Linked DNA regions of Homo sapiens. The protein of the gene in region 2 purifies or fractionates together with the protein of the main gene of each other region. This does not show direct contact. Each region holds a gene or a part of one and is shown on either strand. Other genes may lie near its edges.

The links. Proteins that work in one complex are often made in the same cells at the same time.
Region 1: the proteins of FCRL5 (region 2) and ME1 purify together in Homo sapiens (affinity purification with mass spectrometry; one large-scale study listed by BioGRID and IntAct). This does not show direct contact.

The regions. Positions count from the first base shown.
Region 1 is NC_000006.12:83,218,052-83,221,551, reverse strand, and holds part of ME1 (NADP-dependent malic enzyme), read left to right. Parts: intron 1-3,500. UniProt on the Homo sapiens protein: Catalyzes the oxidative decarboxylation of (S)-malate in the presence of NADP(+) and divalent metal ions, and decarboxylation of oxaloacetate.
Region 2 is NC_000001.11:157,528,281-157,532,135, reverse strand, and holds part of FCRL5 (Fc receptor-like protein 5 isoform 1 precursor), read left to right. Parts: exon of another isoform or gene 1-172; intron 173-3,855. UniProt on the Homo sapiens protein: Plays an important role in B-cell response to antigen that acts both as a negative or positive coreceptor.

The DNA of each region.
Region 1 (3,500 bases), on a different chromosome or scaffold from region 2:
ATTTTTATTAGTGATACCCCCTTTCCAAGCAGGCAGCAAAGCTTAGAAGCTTGACATTCTTTTCATTCTCCCTCATCCCATAGCCTTCAAACACACCATGCATATGTATGCCTGTGTAACTGCTTTATCTCTTATCCTGTCTGGAAAGACCTGAGAATTATTCTCCAATGATCTAAGCTTCTCCTTTAGGGTACTGCTTAAATACCACCACATCCTGGAATCTTTTTGTGACAAGTCTAGCTCATCTTGATCTTTCTCCGTAGCCATGACTGTCTTTATTACACACTTTGACATTTAATTTTATTTCTGGTTATGATACACTCCTGAGAGCTTCCTATTGTAAAAGATTAGGTGTTGCCTTTATAACTAAATTGTAGATTATCTTTTTTTTTTGAGACGGAGTCTCGCTCTGTTGCCAAGCTGGAGTGTAGTGGTGTGATCTTGGCCCACTGCAACCTCCAACTCCCTGGTTCAAGCAATACTCCTGCCTCAGCCTCCCAAGTATCTGGGATTACAGGCACAATGCCAATACGCCCAGCTAATTTTTGTATTTTTAGTAGAGACGGGGTTTCACCATGTTGGCCAGACTGGTCTCGATCTCTTGACCTTGTGATCAGCCTGACTCGGCCTCCCAAAGTGCTGGGATTATAGGCATGAGCCACCGCGCCTGGCCTGTAGATTATCTTTTTTAAAGACAGAGAGTCTTCCATATACTTCTTTTAAAACTTCAGTAGTATCTAGCACCATGCTAGGCACAAAGCAGAAAATTAGTAAATACTTTTTGAATAGGATTAAATAGAATGAGTCATGTATCTTAGCAAGAGGAATAAATACAATACCACAAACGTTCACTACCAGATGGCCCCAAAAAGAAGAAAAGTACTTCTTGTCTAGATTATATTTTGTAGTTAACAAAAGTAACATATAGGAGATATTTCTGAATATTTTGTTTTGCAACCACAAATTTAATAACTGTTAGGATTATTGTCAAAATACTAGTTGAATCTCTTATGGAACTAGAAATGTCATGGGTTAGCACCAATCTCAAAGAATATTTCTGGACATTTTTATATCATGAAGAGATTTTTGGCTTTCCTGGCACTATAGACAGTCTTCTGGACCTCTGGTGATCAGCCCTCCTGGCCCTGTGTGGTCTGTAGTGTATCCTGGGAATAGACTCCTCACATCCTGTTCACACCTGGGAGACAAATCTCAGCCTCCTATCTTCACACCACTTCTCCTGAATCACAGGCTGGTGTCTTCTCATCTGCCTTGCTCCACTCCTTTCTGATATCTGCTCAGAGGACCCTTTAGATAATCATCATGGACAGTCACACATGGAGAGTAAGGATTCAGAATGATTCTTCTTTACTCAGCTATCCTGTGACTGTCTCCAATCTCTTTAAAATGACATTTGTGTGACATCCTAGAGAAGAAACAATGAAATTGAATGCCAGCAGTGTCCTGGTGTTTATAGGTGGAATACACATATTATGTCATATAAATAGTTGAAAAAACTTGAAGTTGATTCGTTATAGAACTTGCCCCCAAATCAAATAGCTAACAATCTATACACTGTAGAGCCAGATCTGACACCAGAAGCTATTTTGCTTCCATTTGGCCATGTGGGCTGCCTATTGGTTCTTTTTTAAAACAAAATAGCTGGCCAGATGCAGTGGCTCACGTCTGTAATCCCAACACTTTGGAAAGCTGAGGTAGGTGGATCGCTTGAGCTCAGGAGTTTGAGACCAGCCTGGCCAACATGGTGAAACCCTATCTCTGCTAAAAATACAAAAAAAAAAAAAAAAAAATTAGTTGGGCATGATGGCACACAGCTGTTGTCTCAGCTACTCGGGAGTCTGAGGCGGCAGAATCACCCAAGCTAAGGGAGATTGCCTACACTCCAGCGTAGGCAATCTGAGTGAGACCCTGTTTCACATACATACATACATACATACATAAAACAAAATAGCTAAGTTTAATTGAATACTTTTCTGACAGACACTGTCTGTGGTAAATTGTTTGCTGGCATTTATTTCATTCAATCCTTATGAATTAGGAAGTATTATTAGTCCTGTATTACTGATGAGAAAACTGAGGTCTAAAAAGGTTAATTAATTTGCCCAAATACAAAACAGACAGTAATTGATGGAATTAGAATTCAAACATAGGTCTACCTCACACCAGAGCCTGAGCCTTCAACCACCATGCTCTGACATCTTTTTAACATTGTGCTATTCATTTTGTTCTATCCAATTAAATACCAATACCTGACACCCAGAAAAGTTTTTGCTTTAACATCTAAGAAATTATTATTTAAATCTGCCACATCTCCTTTGCAGAACAACAAGAATTAATAAAGTTTTTTAAAAGTTTCAATTCAGTGGAGCAATTAACATAAAATGGTTTTATTTTGCCCCAGTCATTGTTTTAAATCATTCTCCACCAGCTCTCCCTCTTGTTTCTCTTAGTGCCATTTCGGTAAGAGCCCATAACTTTCAGTTCACTCATTCTTTTAATATTCTTTTAATTAAATACCTAACATATGCTAGGCATTATTCTGAGTGCTGAGAATACATCAGTGAACAACAATTAAACATCTGTGCAGTTCAAAATGTTATATCCAATTCAAATGTCATGTCCTCTCCCTGCAGTAGGAGAGGCCTGCAGTAGCAGTTAGAGAAAACCCATCTGTTCTTTTACTCTTTCTCTGAAGCTAGCACTTTGAGGAATTTGGGGGGAAATGTTTGGCTCGACTCTGAGAAACCTCCTCCCTCTTTTTGTTAAAGACTACTTCTTCAAATACGTTGGAGAAAAGAAGGAAGGGCATGGAAAAGGGCAAACATCTCTTTTATTAACTCGATTATTAACTCCACTAATTCTCTCTGGCAGGGTCCAAATCTGGCCCTCTGATGTAGGATGTCTGGCTTCAGCCTAGCTTCCTTACACTTCTTCAGGTCCCCAGGGATGCAGAGGCCTCCTCTGCTATGGCCGCTTGACCTTGGAAACTCATGTACCCATACCAGATCCACTGATGGGAATGTATACAGCTTACAGCCACCCTGTCTGTCTGGCTCTCCCTTTCCCATTCTCTTCTCTGCTTAAGTACACATACCTATAACTGCTCACGCTGAGGAGGGGAAAAGAATGCCCCCCAGTCTTTCCTTGAGGACACCATAAGCCTTTAAGAAGGAGTAGCATGCACCAAGAAGAGGGGAGGAAAAAGCCACTACATTACCCAGTAGGCCAAACCATGGTTCCAGCAAATTTCCCTGCCTCTCACTAGCTCAGCCTTCTGGAAGGGGGTGGCTGTGGTTTGTGGGGTTGGCAGGGCTGATTCTACTTTCTGAGGTAGATGGCAAGCCCCACTTGTTTGGTGACTTCCTGATAGTGTGGAATAGTTAACGTATCTTTGTCCTGAAGTTTGGGACCCTGATGACCAATTCTAGGGCAAACATCCTGTTACAAAGGCAAGAAATTAATGAGTTAAATGATGAGTT
Region 2 (3,855 bases):
ATTGGTTCAACCTTTTCGTCTTAATTGACACATTGTAATTGTATATATTTATGGAAGCACAGTTTGATATTTTGATATACATACATGGTATATAACGATCAAATTAGGATATTTAATGTACCCATCATCTCATGCATTTATCATTTCTTTGGAATAAAAACATTCAAAAGCCTCTCTTCTAGCTTTTTTGTAATATATTATAACTGACCATTAACCATCATCACCAATAGAACAGAATTTATTCCTCCTGTCAAATTATAACTTTATACCCATTGACCAACTTCTCCCTATCCTCCTCTTCCCTCTCCCCTCCCCAGTCTCTGATAACCACAGTTCTATTCTCTGCTTCTATAGTATCAACTTTGTATTTTTTTAGATTCAAAATATGAGTGAAATCATGCAGTATCAGTCTCTCTGTGCCTGGATAATTTCATTAAATATGATATCCTCCAGGTCTTTTTATATTGCTGCAAATCACAGGATTTCATTATTTTTTATGGCTGAATACTATTCCATTGTGCATATATTCCACATTTTATTTATCTATTCATCTGCTGGGGGACACTTAGATTGCTTCTATATCTTGGCTATTGTGAACAGGGCTGCAATAAACTTGAGAGTGCAGATATCTCTTTAACATAGCGACTTTATTTCCTTTGAATATCCACCCAGCAGTGAAATTGATAGATAATATGGTAGCTCTATTTTTATTTTATTGAGAAACTTCCATGCTGTTTCTTGTGGTGGCTGTACTAATTTACAATGCCACCAGCAATGTAAGGGTTCCTTCCTCTCCACAACTTAACCAGCACTTGTTTTCTTCTGACTTTTTGATAACAGTCATTCTAACTGGAGTGAGGTTATACTTCATTGGCGTTTTAATTGTATTTCCCCAATAATTAGTGATATTGACCATTTTTTTCATGTACCTGTTGTCCATTTTTATGTCTTCTTTAGAGAAATGTCTGTTAAAGTCTTTTGCCCATTTTTTAATCAGCTTGTTTGGTTTTTTCCTGTTAAGCTCTTTATATATTCTGGATGTTAACACCTTGTCAGACATAAACTTTGCAAATATTTTCTCCCATTCTATAAGTTGTCTTTTTACTCTGTTAATTGTTTCCTTTGCTGTGCAAATTCTTTTCAGCTTGATGTAATCCCATTTGTCTAATATTTGCTTTTGTTGCCTGTACTTTTGTATTTTAAAAGGTCCAGTCTTTTAGAAGAACAATTTGACATTATATGTTATTACTTAAAATGTTTGTATACTTCATCCCAGAAATTCCATGTCTAAGAATTTATCCTAAGAAATGCATGTGTAAATATACAAAAATATATCTACAGAATTACTTAATGCAGCATCACTTGACATTTAAGAAACAACAACATCCCAAACATCCATTAATGGGAAAATGCTTAAATGTATTATAGCATATCTATACAATGGAATACTTTGTCATTGTTAAGAATAATCAGGTAAGTGGGGCATGGTGGCTCTCGCCTGTAATCCCAGCACTTTGGGAGGCCGAGGCGGGCAGATCACCTGAGGTTGGGAGTTCAAGACCAGCCTGATGGAGAAACCCTGTCTCTACTGAAAATACAAAATTAGCCGGGTATGGTCGTGCATGCCTGTAATCCCAGCTATTCAGGAGGCTGAGGCAGGAGAATCGCTTCAACCCGGATGGCGGAGGTTGTGCTGAGCCAAGATCGCGCCATTGCACTCCAGCCTGGGCAACAAGAGTGAAACTCTGACTCAAAATAAAATAAAATAAAATCAGGTAATATATTTCCAAAATTATCAAGTTGTAAATGTAAAAGTTATACTTTATTGTGTGTAAATTATGCTTTAATAAAGATGAGTTTTAAAAGTTAGTGATGTAGATTTTTAAGTAATACCACAGAAAGATGCCCATAATATATAGCTAAGGGGAAAAAGCAGGTTGTAGACCAGTATGTTATTGTGATCCCATGCACGTGTGTGATTTTAATGTATTTATTTATGTGTCTATGAGTGTACTTATACATAGAAAAGATCTAGAAAGTGTCACCAAATACTCAACAGAAGTAATTTCTGAAAAAATAAAGAAAATGGTAAAACTTTTTATTTTTACTTAGATAATTCTGTAAAGTTTGATTTTATTAAATGAATAGCTGGGTTTTTCATTTTTAAAAAAATTTCAGTAGTTTTGGGGACCAGGTGGTGTTTGGTTACATGAGTAACTTCTTTAGTAGTAATTTCCGAGATTTTGGTGCACTCGTTGCCAGAGCAGTGTACACTGAACCCAGTGTGTAGTACTTTATCCATCACCCCACTCTCACTCTTCCACTGAATCCCCAGAATCTATTATATTATGCTTAGGCCTTTGCGTCCTCATAGCTTAGCTCCCACTGATAAGTGAGAACATACAATGTTTGGTTTTCCATTCCTGAGTTACTTAGAATAATGGTCTCCAACTCCATCTAGGTTGCTGTGAATGCCATTATTTTGTTCCTTTTTATGGCTGAGTAGTATTCCATAGTGTACACACACACACACACACACATGCGTATGTATCACATTTTCTTTATCCACCCCTTAATTGATGGGCATTTGGGCTGGTTCCATAGTTTTGCAATCATGAGTTGTGCTGCTATAAACACGTTTGTGCAAGTGTCTTTTTCATATAATGACTTCTTTTCCTCTGGGTAGATACCCAGTAGTGGGATTGCTGGATGAAATGGTAGTTCTACTTTTAGTTCTTTAAGGAATCTCCATACTGTTTTCATAGTGGTTGTAATAGTTTACATTCCCACCAGCAGTGTAAAACTGTTCCCTTTACACCACATTCATGCCAACATCTATTATTTTTTGTTTTTTTAATTATGACCATTCTTGCAGGAGTAAGGTGGTATCGCATTGTGGTTTTGATTTGAATTTCCTTGATAGTGATGAGCACGTTTACATGTTTGCTGGCAATTTGTGTATCTTCTTTTGAAAATATTCTATTCATGTCCTTTGCCCACTTTTTGATGTGATTGTTTTTTCCTGATGATTTGTTTGAGTACTTTGTTGATTCTGGATACTGGTCCCATGTCAGATGCATAGTCTGTGAATATTTTCTCCCACTCTGTGGGTTGTCTGTTTACTCTGCTGATTATTTCTTTTGCTGTGCAGAAGCTTTTAAATTTAATTCAGACCCATCTATTTATTATTGTTTTTGTTGCATTTGCTTTGGGTTCTTGGTCATGAACTCTGCCTAAGCCAACCAATGTCTAGAAGAGTTTTTTAAAGTATATTCCAGGGTTTATATGGTTTTAGGTCTCAGATTTATGTCTTTGATCCATCTTGAGTTGATTTTTGTGTAAGGTGAGAGATGAGGATCCAGTTTCATTCTTCTACATGTGGCTTGTCAATGATGCCAGCACCATTTGTTGCATAGGGTGTTCTTTCCTCACTTTACATTTTTGTTTCCTTTATCAAAGATCAGTTGGCTGTAAGTATTTGGCTTTATTTCTGTGTTCTCTCCTTCCATTGGTCTACCTGTCTGTTTTTATACCAGTACCATGCTGTTCTGGTAACTATAGCCTTGTAGTATCGTTCAAAGTCAGGTAATGTGATGCCTCCAGATTTGTTCTTTTTGCTTAGTCTTGCTTTGGCTATGTAGGCTCTTTTTTTTGTTCCATATGAATATTAGGATTGTTTTTTCTAGTTCTGTGAAGAATTATGGTGGTATTTTGATGGGAATTGCATTGAAGTTATAGATTGCTTTTGGTAGATGGCCATTTTCACAATATTGATTCTACCCATCCATGAGAATGGGATGTGTTTCCATTTGATTGTGTCATCTGCGATTTCTTACACCAGTGTTTTGTAGTTTT